Linked DNA regions of Homo sapiens: region 1 is linked to region 2. Evidence: fine-mapped expression QTL. Tissue or cell type: blood mononuclear cells. Region 2 holds a variant in brackets; the other region holds the start of a gene. All regions are shown on one strand. Distances are from middle to middle.

Region 1 (8,176 bases), 29 kb after region 2:
GCAGCGTTCTTTCTTTCTAAGAAATTTTCCTTTTTCAAACCTATACTGTTGTCAGTAAATTTTTTGCCAACCTGTGAGGCGACCACTTCCTGGTGCTGGGGCTCAGACACCTCACCAGGCATTTTGTGTTCTAGTGTTCTGCGTTTCCTCTTTGGCAATTAAGCTCACACACACACACACTCAACTGTCCCAAAGAAGAGAGTCACCTGATTCTAGTTATTCCGAGGGCTGTGTAAGCACTGATACACACACACACTGTCACACTTACACACATGCAACTGTCCCAAAGAAGAGAGTCACCTGATTCTAGTTATTCCAAGGGTTGAGTAAGACGTTAGTCAATCTCTAGGGAAGCCCTGCTGCTGGGCACTGGAGCTCAGAAATTTATCTCAAAGAATTAGAATTCATAAGGAGCTCTGTGTTTTGGAAAGAGGACACATTGTTTAGGACAGTTTCCATTCCAATTGTGCAGCATGAAATAGAAAAATTTAATAAGTGGGCCAATCAAGTATCTGGAATCCTTTGGATAAATTCATTTATTCAATTAATCCATACTGAGCTCTGGCTGGGCTCTGGACAAAATGGGAAGCAAAATTACTTTACAGCCATATAATAGAATAGTTTGTAGCCATTCAAAATGATTGTATCGATATTTATTGACCTGGAATATGTTCATAGTATGGGTAAACTTACAAACAATATATTATGAACCCAATAAAAATATATTTCAGGGATTGGCTGGGTGTGGTGGCTCATGCCTGTAATCCCAGCACTTTGGGATGGTGAGGCAGGCAGATCACCTGAGGTCAGCAGTTCAAGACCAGCCAGGCCAACATGATAAAACCTCGTCTGTACTAAAAATACAAAATTAGCTGGGCGTGGTGGCGGGCATCTATAGGAGGCTGAGGCAGGAGAATCACTTGAACCCAGGACATGGAGGTTACAGTGAGCTGAGAGCACGCCACTGCACTCCAGTCTGGGTGACAGAGCAGGAAAAAAAAAAAAAAAAAAAAAAAAAAAATATATATATATATATATATGTATATGAAAAAATCGGAAAGGTTCTACATCAAAATGGTAAATTTCGTGTTATATATATTTCACTATAATAAAAGATTGTAACAGTGGCTATCTCTGGATGCTGTTTTTATTATTTGTATTTTTTAGTTTTTTTGCAATGAATATGTGACAAGTAAAAGAATGACTACAAATAAAAGGAAACATAAAAAATTAAGTCTGATGCTCTTTTAAAGCCCATCTGATTCACTCTTGACTGCAGCTTTCTCTCCATCCACCCATCCACTGGAGCCGGCTTTCTGTGTCACTTTTTAAAGTCCATTTTTTTTTTTTTTTTGAGACGGAGTCTTGCTCTAATGCCCAGTGCAGTGGTGTGATCTCGGCTCACTACAACCTCTGCCTCCCGGATTCAAGCGATTCTCCTGCCTCAGCCTCCCAAGTAGCTGGGATTACAGGTGCCCGCCACTGTGCCCAGCTAATTTTTGTATTTTTAATAGAGACAGGGTTTCACCATTTTGGCCAGGCTGGTTTTGAACTCCCGACCTTGTGATCTACCCACCTCGGCCTCCCAAAGTGCCACCGCACCTGGCCTAAAGTCCATCCTTTAAGGCAACCATACTGTTGGGCTGGAAGCCAGGAGAGCCCCACTATAATAGGGCAGGGAGCCAGGCTAGGAATTGGAAACAGTAAGAATGCGAAACAGGATGAGGATTTGAAGACCCTCTTAAAAATGGGGGAAAAAAAAAAAGACTGCATTCCAAAAATAATGCAGAAAGTCAAGTCTTGGGAGGAAGGTTTGGTCTTAACGGTGAAATCTGGAAAAGGTATAGGAAGTACAATACTTGAAAAATACCCTGCAAAGATTTATTTTGGCTGGCAACATTCAGTAGATTACAGCTGTTTCTGTGGTTATTTTTGTAGATTAACATGGACCAAAATATGGCATCATCTTACTGGGTGTGTTCACTTCCCGACAGTTCTAGAACATGGTACTCGATCTGTCCTTGTTGCCTTCTAAACTATTCGAAGCAGACGCTGTATCAGACTTTCTAGCTTCTGAAATAAAGGCACAGGAATTACAGGGAAGCAGAGCAAGTGATCTGGGACGTGGAGGGTTTTTCTTCCATTGTGTGCAGTTTGGAAAGTTGCCATCTATTCAGGTTTCACTCAAACCGGCTTTTTCCAGACCCCAGAACAAATTGTAGCCAGAAGCTCTGCTCTTTGTCAGGAGGCAATTATACCCCAGACTTAGCCAGGAACTTGCCTCTTCCCTTAGAGAACAACTTCTCTTTATGTATAAGGATCCTGGCTCTCCTTTTACCCAGGGGGTTGGGATACAGCCTCTAGTTCTTTCTAGAAAGACCCCAACTGTCCCAGGGTTTCCATTTTGTTTTTTACCATTGCACAGGTCTCTGGATAATAACCTTCCTAATAGCGACTGAAATGTCTCACAGCCTTTCCTCGTTTTTGTTTCTCTTTAGCTAAAGAAAGCAAAAATAAATAATCCCCATCTTCATTGTTGGAAACCCCAGGCAATTAACCTTTTGAGGAGCTTCACACAAGATACAGATCTGTGAAGCCACATAGGTTGGCATTGAGTTTAACCCCTTGCCCAGAAAGTTAAGGTTAGGAAGCTTGGTTCCTATTTTCTGTTCAAATACTGCTTTCCTTTGTTAGAGATAAACTTTCTTTTAAGGCAAATAATCACTTATATGATAGAACCTTTAAAATAATCCTGTTGACTACAAACAGGATAGTGCAACTCTTCCAAATCTTGAATGTGGTGGTGACTGCATGACTGTGTATGGGTGTCAGAACATAAAACTAGCCACTAAAAAGGCTAATTTTTGGGGGGAAACCGTCTGCTCTGTCGCCCAGCCTGGAATGCAGTGGCACGATTTCGGCGCACTGCAGCCTCCGCCTTTCTCAATTCTCGTGCCTCAGCCGCGCCATCATGCCCGGCTAATTTTTTGTATTTTAGTAGAGGTGGGGTTTTGTCATGTTGGCCAGGCTGGTCTCAACTCCTGAGCTCAAGCGATCATCCCGCCTCGGCCTCCCAAAGTGGTGGGTTTAAAGGCGTGAGCCACCGCGCCCGGCCTAAAAAGGCTGATTTTTACTGTACCTAAAGTCTACCTCGATTAAGAAAACGAGGCCGGGTGCGGGTGAGGTCAGGAGTTCGAGACCAGCCTGGCCAACATGGTGAACCCCCGTCTCTACCAAAAATACAAAATTAGCTGGGCGTGGTGGCGCGCGCCTGAGCGAGAGACTCCATCTCCAAAAAAAAAAAAAAAAGTAAAGAGGTCGAAGCTGTCTAAGCGGACGCTGCGGTGGACTAGCGGTCAAGCTTGCCTGCGAGCGGCTCACCTGAGTCACCCCCAAAACCGGCCTCCAGCAGCATACCCGACCCTGCAGTACCCCCTCCCACGCAGCCTGCGATCGGGACGCCTGCAGGAGGCGCCAGAGTCTTCGCGGGGGTTGCAATCCCGCGCAAGGGCCCCCGGCTCCCAAGGCATCCGCAACCTTCCGATCCCCCGGGAAGGCCCTGCACGTCTCGGCCGCTCCCTGCCAGCAGCCCGCCCCGCCACTACACTCCGCCGCGGCCGCGCTGACGTCACCACCCCGCCTCCCCGCCTTGCTCCGCCGTTCCCGCCCCGCCCCCTTTCCCGGCGTGCGCCGCGGCTGAGGCTCCTCGCCCTCAGCTTCTGCCTGTCGCCCCAAAATGGCGGACACAATGAGCCGGCGACGCGCCGGTTGTCCGTGAGGTGGCTGTGAGGACGAACGGTCGGCGAGGCTCCACAGTCCAGGCAGAAGACCCTCGACCAAGCAGGAAGAAGAGGAGGAGGCGGCCCAACTGTTGGCCGACTTCCCGCTAGCCGCCGGCGCGGCGCCCGCCCCGCCTGGGTTGGCCCCTCGGCAGCCCGCCCGCTCGCCGCCGGGCCCCGCCCCGGCCCTGCGCCGCCGCTGCCTTCCCCAGCCGCCGCCATGAAGCTGACCGACAGCGTGTTGCGGAGCTTCCGCGTCGCTAAGGTGTTCCGCGAAAACTCGGACAAGATTAACTGCTTCGATTTCAGCCCCAACGGCGAGACGGTCATCTCGAGTAGCGACGACGACTCCATCGTGCTCTATGACTGCCAGGAGGGCAAGTGAGTGCGGCGGAGGCCCTGGGCCCGAGTCTCAGTGCCTCCCTCCGGTGGCCCAGCACAGGTCCCTCGGCCTGCCCTCCGTCCCGACTTCAGCCCCCAGCCTATTTTGCACGCGTTCCTGCCAGGGCCGCCTCCACCCCGCAGCCGTCCAGGAGACCTTTTATTTTTTTCTTCTTAAAAAAAAAAGATAACGATAGTCATAATTTTATAATATTATTTGTATGTCTTCGGTCTCCTTTGAGCGCTATGCATCACTTGCCAAACCCCACCTTGACCTTGACCTTTAAACGCCCGGTCCGCCCACCCTGGGCCCACCAGGTAGCGTTTTCAGCTCCTCAGGCTGTCAAAGGTGCTGGTCTGCTCCGGCCTCGACGCAGGACTGCAGGGGCTGCTTTTCTGCCTCCTTCGGCAGCGTCAGCTCTCTCTTGTGCTCTCTCCACTGTGACCTCGATTCCGCCCTGGCACTCCGCCCATCCCCTGCCCCTCAGCTTCCCGCGGCCTTTCTGCCGTCAGACCGCGTGGGTTGCACTTCTTAGCTGTCAGGATTTATTTGTTGTGCCCCTTTGAGCCCCCTTGCTTTTTCTTCCTGCTCCTAGCCTTTCTCTTACTCATTCAGACTTGGTGCCCACGTTCATAAGTGAACTTTTCAGCAACATCTAAAACTTCCTTTTTGCCACACACAAACGAACTTGGTCGTCCCATCCTGACCTGAATGTGAGCTTCCGTTAAAACAAAGCAAGCATCGTAGAACAATTTCAGGTTTCCTTTCATACTTTTTTTTTTCTATTACACTTTTTGGTCCACTTTGAATTCCAATTCTGATCATGAAACTTTTATGTTGCCACAAGTCATCTGGAGACCCACCATACCTGCATCTTTTCGCAAAATCTAAGCACAGCACTTTGCCTTTTTCCCTGGGGGTCCTTGTCAGCCCTCCTCACCGCACGCCTGTGGACTTGCAGCTCCTTGGAGCCAAAAACTAGTTTAGATTAAATTCGTTTTACCCTTAGCCACCTTCCCCAAGAAGGCTTGCTGATGTTTGGTTTAATTCGGTGGACCCTGGTTTTTTCAGACTTGATTTTGTCACCTAGTAACAGATATTATTATTATTATTATTATTATTATTATTATTATTTGAGATCTTGGGTTTTTCTCCACCTTCTCCAGCTGTTCCTTTTTCCTTTTTTTTTTTTTAGACTGGTGTCCTTCTTTTGGAACATATCTCTTCATTTGTGAATTTGATTATCTGAAGTAATGCTAGTTTGGACTGAGCTATAATGGTATCCCCCCAGTTTTTTTCCCCACTGGGGCTGTGAGAAAGTATTATGTAACCGGCTCTGGATCTGCCTGCAGTTTGTGGCAGAGTGGTCTGCAGTGGTGGTCTTAAGGAAGAGGGAATTGTTAGCTGGACAAATAGTTATTTGAGTCAGTGTTACTCATTGAGTAGATGGATTTCTGTCCTGGTCTGGTCACTTGAATCAGTTTAGAAGACGAAGTAACATTTAAAGGTGTGGTAGTAGGGTCAGCATTGTGGGGTCCTGGAGGAGTAATTTGAAGCTGGCTTGCATGAAATGTATAGTGCTTATGCACAGATTAGAACCTCTTCCCAGAACCTGAGGGTGGAGATGTATATCCTCATTTAAAGGAAATGAAGGTTGTTATAGCATTTCTTTGCAGTTTGTCCCCAAATTTGGCGTAATTTTGATTTGGGAAGGATGACCTTGACATGAAGTCCTGTCTTTCTTTTTTTTGTTTTTTTTTTTCGGGTGGGGGACGGAGTCTCTCTCCGTCGCCCAGGCTGGAGTGTAGTGGCGCGATCTTGGCTCACTGCAACCTCTGCCTCCCGGGTTCAAGCGATTCTCCTGCCTCACCCTCACAAATAGCTGGGATTACAGGCGCCTGCCACCATACCCTAACTTTTGTATTTTTAGTAGAGATGGGGTTTCACCATGTTGACCAGACTGGTCTTGAACTCCTGACCTCAAGTGATCCACCCGCCTTGGCCTTCCAAAGTGCTAGGATTATAGGCATGAGCTGCTGTGCCTGGCCAAATCCTGTCTTGTTAAAAGTAAAATGCTAGTTTTGTGACATAAGGCAGTTTATTTACTCGTAGCATTTTTACATAATTAGAAACTAACAAAGTTACAGTGTTTCAAAGAACTCCCATATGATTCAATAACTGGTTACATTTTCTGCATTTGCTTCATGACTGTAGGTAAATATTTATATGTACTGTGTGCCTCCCCCCACCTTTAGAGTTGGAGGTATCAAGCCCCTTTATCCCTAAACACTTCAACATGGATTTTCTTTCTTTTTTGAGATGGAGTCTCGCTCAGTCGCCCAGGCTGGAGTGCAGTGGCGTGATCTTGGCTCACTGCAACCTCCGGCTCCTGGGTTCAAGCGATTCTCCTGCCTCAGCCTCCTGAGTAGCTGGGATTACAGGTGCATGCCACCATGCCTGGCTAATTTTTGTATCTTTAGTAGAGGCAGGGTTTCACCATGTTGGTCAGGCTGGTCTTGAACTCCTGATCTCGTGATCTACCCGCCTCAGCCTCCCAAAGTGCTGGGATTCCAGGCATGAGCCACTGCGCCCGGCTCAACGTGGATTTTCTAAGCACAAAGACATTCTTATGTAACCAGAGCACAGTTATCCAAATTAGGAAATTTAGTACTGATACAATACTACAGGGCATGCTCTTGAGTTTTCTCTGATCAATTAATTGTAACCTTGTTTCATTATCTGTGGTGAAGGAGTGGCCTGGTAGTTAGGAGGGAACTGGGTACTAGTTTGGCCTGTGACTAGGTATGTGACATTGGTCAGATTACTTCTTTGGGTATTAGACAACCTCTTTAGTTTCCATTCTAGGCAATAATATGATGAAAAATTTTGTCACTAGTATAGGTCAAACCGACCTCAGAAGAAAAGAAGTATTTCCTTGGGAAGGCATGGTATTGTATCTTTTATTTATTTATTTTTTTGATAGGGACTTTCGCTCTTGTTGCCCAGGCTGGAGTGCAGTGGCTCCATCTCGGCTCACTGCAACCTCCGCCTCCCGAGTTCAAGCGATTCTCCTGCCTCAGCCTCCTGAGTAGCTGGGATTACAGGCATGCGCCACCACACCTGGCTAATTTTGTATTTTTAGTAGATGCGGGATTTCTCCATGTTGGTCAGGCTGGTCTCGAATTCCCGACCTCAGGTGATCCGCCGCCTCGGCCTCCCAAAGTGCTGGGATTGCAGGCATGAGCCACTGCGCCCGGCCTTTCTTTTTGTTTGTTTGTTTGTTTTGTTTTGTTTTGTTTTTGAGACTGCCTCACTCTTTCCTAGGCTGGAGTGCAGTGGCGTAATCTTGGCTCACTGCTGCAACCTCGCTGCTGGATTCAAGCGATTCTCGTGCCTCAGCCTCCCGAGTAGCTGGGATTACAGGCACCCATCAGTGTGCCTGCTAATTTTTGTATTTTTAGTAGAAATGGGGTTTCACAATGTTGGCCATGTTGGTCTCAACATCTTACCTCAAGTGATCTGCCCACCTCGGTCTCCTCGGCCTCCCAGAGTGCTGGGATTACATATGTGAGCCTCCGCACCCGGCCCTGTTTTTTTGTTTTGTTTTGTTTTGTTTTTTTGTTTGTTTGTTGTTAAGACAAAGGTCTTCCCCTGTTGCTCAGGCTGGAGTGCAATAGCATGCTTATAGTTCACTAAAGCCTTCATCTTCTGGGCTCAAGTGATCTTCCCACCTCAATCTCCAAAGTAGTTGGGCCTACAAGCACTCGCCAACTTACTTGGCTATTTTTATTTTTAGTGGAGACAAGTTCTCACCAGGTTGCCCAGGCTGGTCTCAAACTCCTGAACTCAAGCGATCCTCTCACCTAGGCCTCCCAAAGTGCTGGGATTACAGGTGTTAGCTACTGTGACCGGCCGAAGGCATAGTATCTTTATTAGATGACCCTAGTGTTAGAATTTGGGAGTTTGAAAATGGCTAAAGCAAGATTTTGTGTGCTTAGTATTTTCCAGTTTACTG
Region 2 (8,176 bases):
GCTCTGGGCATTCCTTTGCCCCTGTTGTTGCCTTCCCCTGTGGTGCCCTCTGTCCTCCAACAGGAACCTGGTGGTCCCCGGTGACCAGGGCTCGGGGAGGATGGTCACCACTGTCCTTTAAATCTAAAGAATTCCTCCTTGACACAAGCGCTGGTTTTCAACAGAGAAACAGAAGAAGCAGAGAGCACTGCAGAAGCCAGTTTTGTTGCTGCAGACAGAGGCTCTGGGATGGGAACGCATGGGAAAAGGCAGTGGGATGGCTTTGTCCTTTCTTGGGTGGTTCTTCTGATCTTTGAGGGAAGCCAGGGGTTCCTGCAAGCCCCTCGCCCCAGCCTCAACACCCTGCAGCCTTGTGGGAAAAGTATGGGCACCCCAGACAATGATGCGTTTCTAAAGGGTCTGCTACCCTCCAAGGGATCTGGGGCTCAGCGGGGCCCTCAGGCTCAGGAGGGACTCCCACCACCAGGGCCATTTCACAGGCATGGCAGGTCCACTCGTACCCCTGAATGAGAGACTTGAGGAGCAGGGGGACCAGAGGGGAGGGGCTGGGGCTGAGCAGAGAACTGATTCAATAACCAGCCGGGCAGACCCTGCACGTCATTGTGGCTTTGCCATCCCAAGAAAATGTCACTTCTTCCCCATGGACATTCTTCTCTGCGATTAGCTCTCCATCTACACCGGATGTGAGTGGGGTGGTGGCAGGGTCAGCTACCTGGGGCCAACAGATGGGTACCATTGATGTACCAGTGGTACAAGACTGTATGACTGGGCAGCCCAAGCCAGAAGGAGCACAGCGTCCACCTCTGCAGCTATTCATCCTTACTATGGGTTAGGAACCAGTTACTAAGCAATTAGCATGTGGCCAGGTGTGATGGCTCATACCTGTAATCCCAGCACTTTGGGAAGCCAAGGTAGGAGGACTGTTGAGTCCAGGAGTTTGAGGCAAGGTAGGAAGACTGTTTGAGCCCAGGAGTTTGAGGCCAGCCTAGGCAACATGGCAAGACCCCCATCTCTACAAAAAATTTTTTAAAATTAGCTGGGCATGGTGACATGCGTATGCCTGTAGTCCCAGCTATTTGGGAGGCTAAGGTGGGAGGATCGCTTGAGCCCAGGAGGTCAAGGCTGCAGGGAACCATGATCATGCCACTGCACTCCAGCCTGGGCAACACAGTTAGACCCTGTCTCTGAAAAATAAAATAGAAAAGTTAGCATATGCCATGAGGTTTATACACATGTCATTTAATCCTCACACCAATCCTAGAAGGGGGTAGCTATTACTGTTTCCCTTTTTGCAGGTGGGGACACTGAGACTCTGAGAGGTGAAGCTGGTCGGGGAAAGGGGATTGGCAGACTTGGCCTGGGTAGTAGGGGAGGGTAGGAGGCAGGGCTGAGTCAACTGTTGGAAGAAGACAGATTTGGGCTCATGATACAATATTTTTATAATGGTCCCAACCAAAGGACTGGGCTGCCCAGATGGCAGGAGCTCCCTGTCATGGGAGGCATGACAGGGGAAGCTGAATGGGCACCTTTCCTGTCATTTGGACACCTGAATGGAAAGAGAGTACCTATCAGGAGCAAATGAGCCCTAAGGTGTCAATCCTGGCCCCAGCCCAGTGCTGGAAGGTATAGAGAAGACAGCACCTCCCAGGTAGGGGTTGAAGTGCCCAGGGGGCACACCCTGCTGAGAACTATGCCCCCATTGTCCCATCTCCAGGGGCGGCTTCCACTTTCCAAGATGTGTCTTTCTTAGCGAGAAATTTCAGGACACCTGAGAGAGGCACAAGGGGGAACACAAGGCTGGTAGCGAATTCCCCCAATTTTTCACCCCAGGCACTTCCCTTGTCTCATCCTAGTCCCAGCCTGTGGGGACATCTCAGAGCCCAACCCCACTCCCAAGGCCCCTCTCTGCAAGGCTGACAGCCTCCTCCTACCCCATCCCTTACACCCAACCAGTGCAGCAAGCCCCATCGGTTCTCCTCCTAAATATCCCTCAAATCTATCCACTCCTCTCTGGATCCACAGATGCAGCCCTGGCCACCTCCTCCCTCGCCTCCCAGTCACCAGTGCCAGTTCATTTTCTACCCAGCAGCCCCACAGTCCTCCCTGATCTGGCCCCACTCTCCCCACTCAGTGCCCTCATGCTGTCCTCCAGCCAGAGGGAAGCCCTTTCAGTTCCTGACACACACCCTGTCCCCCTGTCTCCTGCATCACATTCACTGCAGATTGGACATCTTTCCTCCCAGGACTGGGTTAAACACCCCTAGGTGCCCACAGCCATGGCAAAATTGTGTGGCCAGAGTCATTAACATGTCTGCCTCCTTGGAGAGACCAAAGGTGCCATGGGACAGAGTCCAACCTGTCTTGCCCAGCCTATATTCCCATCCCCTGGTCCTGCTGCCTGGCACAGAGGAGATGTTCAGTGAGCAACAGCTGAATGCATGCAAGCATGAATGTATGAATGTGAGTGTGACTGAGGCTGAGAGGGCTGTCCCACACAGGCAGGTCCCCAAGGACAGCTGAGTCCAGAAGCCATGACAGAAAGTGGACTGAGGGAGACGTTTGGGTCAGGAGACTAACTGAGCCAACAGGTCCTCTGTGGAGGCCTGGACTTGCGTAGCCCCCACTCCTGCCCTGAATCACAAAGAGGCGACAGCTTAAGATCCATGCACCTGCCAGAAGGGACAGGAATGGGGGATTCAAGCCAAATAGAGTGAGTGAGGCAGATTCCTAGAGGTCTTTCCCACTCCCTCTGGCCCACAGATTCCCTTTTAGCAAAGTCACTTTAAAGTCTTTCCTGGGGACTGTGATGGGGTGTGAGGGAACTGAGCCCAAGGCCAAAAGACCAGCCACAGTGCACCTCCCCTACTCAACCAGAGGGGAAGATGCCTCTTTGTGGCTTTGTGCACACACACACACACACACACACACACACACACACATATACACAAAACCTCCCCCACACAGAGACGGAGCAGGGCCTCCCTGGGCCTGGGAGACCTTGAACCTCCAGTCACCACTCTCTCTGTGTGGCCCCTGGCTTCCTCGTACCCCTCCCAGCTCAGCGACAGCCTCCTGAACTTCCTGGCGGGCTTCCAGGCCTCAGAGAAAGCCGCTGTCTCTGCCACACCATTACTGTCACCATCACTGCTGCTGCGAAAATGCAATTACAGCAAACAACAGCCGCCGCCTCACTTGAGCCTCGCCATCCACACCTGGAACTAATTAACTTAATTAGGCCTTAATGAGCTACACTGGTCGGAATGCCTATTTTTACTTAATTATCCCCTAATGTGCTTGGCATGGAGGAGCACAGGACCCGGAGGATGGCTTTGGCGGTGGCGGTGGCAACCACCTCCTCTCCCTGAAGAAGAGACACTCAGGAGGTGATGCCTGTCTGCCTGGGGCGGGCCCCAAAGAGCTGAGAATCACAGGAGGATGGGTGAGGCAGGGGCCACGGGCCACGCTGCAAGAACAGCAGCCCACCCAGCTCCAGCCTCCCATCATTCCCACTGCCCCGTCTGAGCTGGGGCTGAAGCCACACTTTGCTCAGTTGGGGGTGTAACAGGCATGACCTGGCTAGCTTTTGCATTCACAGACCTCTGACAGGGGAGGACATGGGCTCAGAGAGTTACTCTTCCAACTGCCTATAATGGGAAGGCACAGAGAGATGAAGGGCTTGCCTGAGGACACACAGCTAACTGGTGGCAATGGACGTGAATGGCTCTCAGGCCCTTTGAAGGAGCACTTTAAGCCATGACGGGGTCCTGTCAGGGTGGAGTCTAGACTCTTTCACACCAGGCCAGGCCAGGCTAGGATAAGCAGAGGATCACTTAGACAGCTGGCCTCCAGGGTCCCTACGGCAGCACCTTCCACCCCCAGTTGGGCCTTGGCTCCTGAAAGCCAAGTTTACATCATCAACTTCTCTAGCTTTGGGGTGGGGTGAGGTGGTCTTGGTTCACTAGACAGATATGGGGGAGGCTTCAAGAGCAGGGTCCTTCCCTGCTGGCCCCTGCTGGCCTTGACCCTGCTGGGGCCTCCAGATCAATGGCTCATTGATCAATGGCTCCAGATCAATGGCTCATTTGAATCTCTGGGTTCCTGGGGCTGGAGGGGTACCCTGTCCCTTGTGTAAGCAAAATACATCTCTATGCTAAAGATGGATCAATCTCTGGGGCAACCCCCTCTCTGGAACTCTAGGCTTATATCTGACAACTGTTTCCCTTGGCACCTCCAGCCC[TATCCAGCCCC/C]AGGAGTCCCAGTCCTAACACAGACAACCCAGAACCCTTGATTTCCCTCTCCCTGGTCTGCTTTTCCCAGCATCCCCCTCTTCTGAAAATGGCCATGCCATTTGCTCATGTGCTTAAGCCAGAAACTGAAGAACTGCCCTGGACAACCCTCTCTCACACCCTACAGCCAACCCTTCCTGAAGTCCTGTTGGCTCTGCCTCCAAATAACATCCCCAAATGCCAGCTTCCCACCACCTCCCAGCAAGCACCCAATCCTGGCCACCATCCTCTCTCATCTCGACAGTGTCTCCCTTGGTCTTCATGGAGCCTCCACAATCTGGTCTCCATGAGGCTGTCACAGTGATTTAAGGGAAAAAACCACTCCCTAGTTCAAAATCCAATGACTTCCCATGGCACTTAGAATAAAGTCCACAGGCCTTAGCCCAACCGACAGAGCCCCACCTGCCTCGCTGGTCCCATCCACCTCCTTTCCCTTCTCCTTGCCCCATTGACGTGGGCTGCCCTTCAGGACCTCACAGGCCTCAGGGCCTCTACACTGCCTACTCCTTCTGCCTGGAATGCTCTTCCCCCTGACCTTTGGATCACTCAGATCTTGGCTTAAACATCATTGCAGCCTTCTCTGGCCCCACGCCCTAAAGTCTCCTCCTAGGCCCTAGCCCTGTTAGATCGCCTCCTAGATCACCATGTTAGAATCTTCTCCGTGGTACCTGTTAGCATCTGAAAATGCTGTGTCTCTGTCTCCCTTGAACGTCATCTGTTTTGATCCCTACTGAATCCCCAACCTATAAACCACATGCCTGGCACACTGTAGGAACTTTTTGCTAAATGGGTGTTAGAGGAATGCCTTGACTTTTTCACAAGTGATTAGAGTCCCCAGCCCCTTCCTTGAGCTGCCCAGAGCCCACCCAAATACCTCAGGCCAGAGCATAGTATTCTTGAATCCTACGTCCTGGCCCCCAGCCTCTGCTCACACGGTCCAACCACCTGGAATGCCCTTTTCCTATCATTTGCCAACGGAAATCTGGCCTGCCCCCAGACTTCTGACCAGTGAGGGAGTGGGTGGGGACCACCACCTGTTTGAACTAGTGAGCTTGACTTGGCCCTTGGCCTTGGCTCTTCCTGAGATTTATCTCTGCCTACTCTTTGGAGAGAACTCCTTGGGCCTGTGTCTGTCTGGACTCTAAGGACATGAGCCTCTGGAGGTGCTGGCCTTCATCTCTGCCTGCTCATTGCTCCCCATTCCTGCCCCAGTAGCCAATCCCAAGGTGGCTGGCCTAGAGTCAGCACATAGCAAACATTTGATGAAGGAAGGAGGGTGGGTAGGTACATGAGGTCCCCCAGCTGTAGGTCCCATCTCAGGGCTGAGGATGTGGCCAGGTCTGAGTATGAGCCTAGGCAGCTAGCCCAAGTGAAGAGAGGCTGCCTCCAGCTCTACCCAGCCCCAGGAGGACCAGTCCTAACACAGACAATTCAGGATCCTCCCACCAGCCAGCATTCCCCTATGACTATGGCTATGCCATTTCTTCCTTGGCCTCAGGCTCCCCTCCTGTGCTAGTCCTCACCTCCTTGGCTTGAAAGGGCCTCTTTCCTGAGGCTGAAAAGTCCAGGGGCACCAGGCCAGATGGCTTGGTGCTCAGGACCTTCTGGCCCTCTGGCCACAGCCCCCACCTCCTCTGAGAGGTGAGAGTGGGCTCCTCTCTCCTCCTGGCAGCACTGGCCTCTGCCAGTGGATCTTCACTGTGCCATCTCACAGCTTATGCCCCAGCGTTCATAGAAATAAGGGGATTTTAGTCTTGTTGTGACTATTGCCTGTAACCAGAGCTGCCCACCAGCCATCTGTGCGCCCACCCCACCTGTGCCCTGCCTGAGGGGCTAGGCCCCTGGAGACAGTTCTGACTGGCAATTCCCTTTGTCCAGGCTAGACCCTCTGCCCTTCTGAACTGGAGAATCTCTGTCTCCCATCTAGAAGGCCTGGACTCTGGGTGTCATCCCAGACCTTCCCACTCAGTGGTACCCGATCTTACCAGCAGTATTCCCAGCTGGCTGAACCCTGGTCTCATCAGAGCCCCTCCCACCCTGGATCCTAGATCTAGAGCCATGCGGTCAGGGCAGGACAGACTTGAGGACGCTCAGTGTGAGGGGAGTCACTAACCTGCAAGGACCAAAGCCGGGGTTTGGGACTTGGTGCTGTCCTTTACTGGGTCTTGCTGCCTTGGTTTATCCACCTAAGAGGCAGAGACATTGTTGTCATTTAGCAGGATGTAGGTGACGCCCATGAGATGGAAGCATGAAGTGCGTTGTAAACCTAGCATTGGTGACTTCACCTGAATTGCTATTGAGGTGGAAGCAGGGAGTTGAGGGGTTTTAAACACCAGTCTAGCCTCTAAGAAGGCTGTGGTTCCAGCACTGCAGGCTGAGCACAGGGATCAAGTGAGATCACAGGGCCTAGGAAATGGATTCCCTTCTCTGCAGCCAGGGACCTTCATCTGTTTCATTTATGCAATGGGGCTAACCCAGAAAGGGGCAGGTCACAAAGGGAAGGGACAGCTCTGAGGACATAATCTGGAAGGAGGGAAGAGGGATGGCAAGTTCCTTGGGTCCCACCTCCCAGGGGGCTCTGGATAGGCCCAGGATGTCTGAGATCATGCAGTGTAAACTCTCTCCTTTGACAAGAGGAAACAGACCCAAGGGAGAAGTTCAGCCCAGGTCATCCTGCTGGGCCAGAAGTAGGGTTGCTAGGGGCTGATATCGGTTCTAACAGCACCTCCTTGAAGGCCCTGGAGCCTCAGTTTCCCTACCCGCACAATGGTGGCACTGACTCCCATCTTCCTTTCTTCCCTTCCTCCCCACAATGGCCCCCACTCAAGAAAGCTGTGAGGTTCGCTGAGGTTCACCGAGGGGAAGGCTGTGGACAGAGTCAGGGCTCTGCCTCCTAGCCCTGTATAAGGTGGAGGAAAGGCTGAGGGAGCCAGGAGCCTGGGGACCACCTCAGTAACTCCAAAGGCAGCCCCACTCCTTCCAAGGGAAAGAGGCCATTGGGCAGGAGACCTCCTTGGGGGTGAGGGGGAATATGCCCAGGCTTGGGGAGTCTCCAGCCATAACAGGCTCCCTCTTGGGGTTGGCACTGCCATGACTGGCTCTACCACCTTCCTTGACCTAAGCCCCACTTTCCCCATGAATCCAATGAGGATAACAGGGATCATCCCAGTCCTGCCAGTCTGTGGCCTCCTGGGGCCACGAAGAATAGCCTACTGGCCAGTGGGTATCAGATGGTGGCTCTTATGAACAGCAAAGCCCTAAAGAGAGACAAGACAGCCTGCTAATGGTGGCATTTCAGGCAGAGAACTTGGGGGCAGAGGAGCCTGCAGTGCTCAGCCCCCTAATCGCAGACACTCCAGCCAAGCCACCGCCTCTGCCTTGCCCTGGGGCTGGGGTCAAGGGTGGCAATGTCTGTTGAGGATGTGAGTAGGCTCAGTCAGGGACTCCATTAGCCCAGGAAACTGCCTTTCTGTCCCCACTTACTCTTCTCTCCTAGGCTATGGGCTGCCTGCAGTCACCTCACACACACAGCAGCCGCCACCATCCACCCATCTCCCTCCCTCCAAGCAGAGGCAGCTGCTAGGCCTCCATGCTGGAACCAAAATTGAATGAGCGCTCTCACAATGTCGCCTCCCGCTGACAGCTCCTAATTGCATGTTGAAGCCATGTGATGGAGCCCGAGTTACACTAATTATGTCATTACCCTAATTAAGTAAATACTGTACGTGCTAATTGGCTGAAATCTCTTCAGGGGGATGGGCACTGGTGTCCCCTGGGCTTCACTTGGGTGGGCTGGAGGTAATAGAGGAGGGTGGGGGCCCGCCCCTCCCTGGGGTCATCCAGTGGGCGTCAGCGAGGGCCCCTGACCACAGCCCAAGACTGGTGTGCCT

The links. PIP is the estimated chance that this variant, and not a neighbour inherited with it, causes the effect.
Region 1: it holds the start of WDR82, and the variant in region 2 is fine-mapped to the expression of WDR82 in blood mononuclear cells (TOPMed, PIP 0.97).

What each region holds. Positions count from the first base shown.
Region 1 is chr3:52,274,185-52,282,360 of GRCh38, reverse strand. It overlaps WDR82 (WD repeat domain 82), which reads left to right and starts at 3,712. Exons shown (of 9, transcript NM_025222.4): 1 at 3,712-4,160. The coding sequence starts at 4,000. It overlaps LOC107986086 (a long non-coding RNA gene), which reads left to right. Exons shown (of 3, transcript XR_001740699.2): 3 at 1-43. RefSeq lists enhancers at 3,089-3,720, 4,190-4,289, 4,700-4,779, 4,800-4,849, 4,353-4,985 and silencers at 3,450-3,739, 3,920-3,999.
Region 2 is chr3:52,302,692-52,310,867 of GRCh38, reverse strand. No RefSeq gene overlaps it. Among named protein-coding and RNA genes, the nearest start is that of DNAH1, 9.5 kb to the left of the region's middle. RefSeq lists an enhancer at 1-249. The variant TATCCAGCCCC/C (reference allele first, on the strand shown) is at 4,238.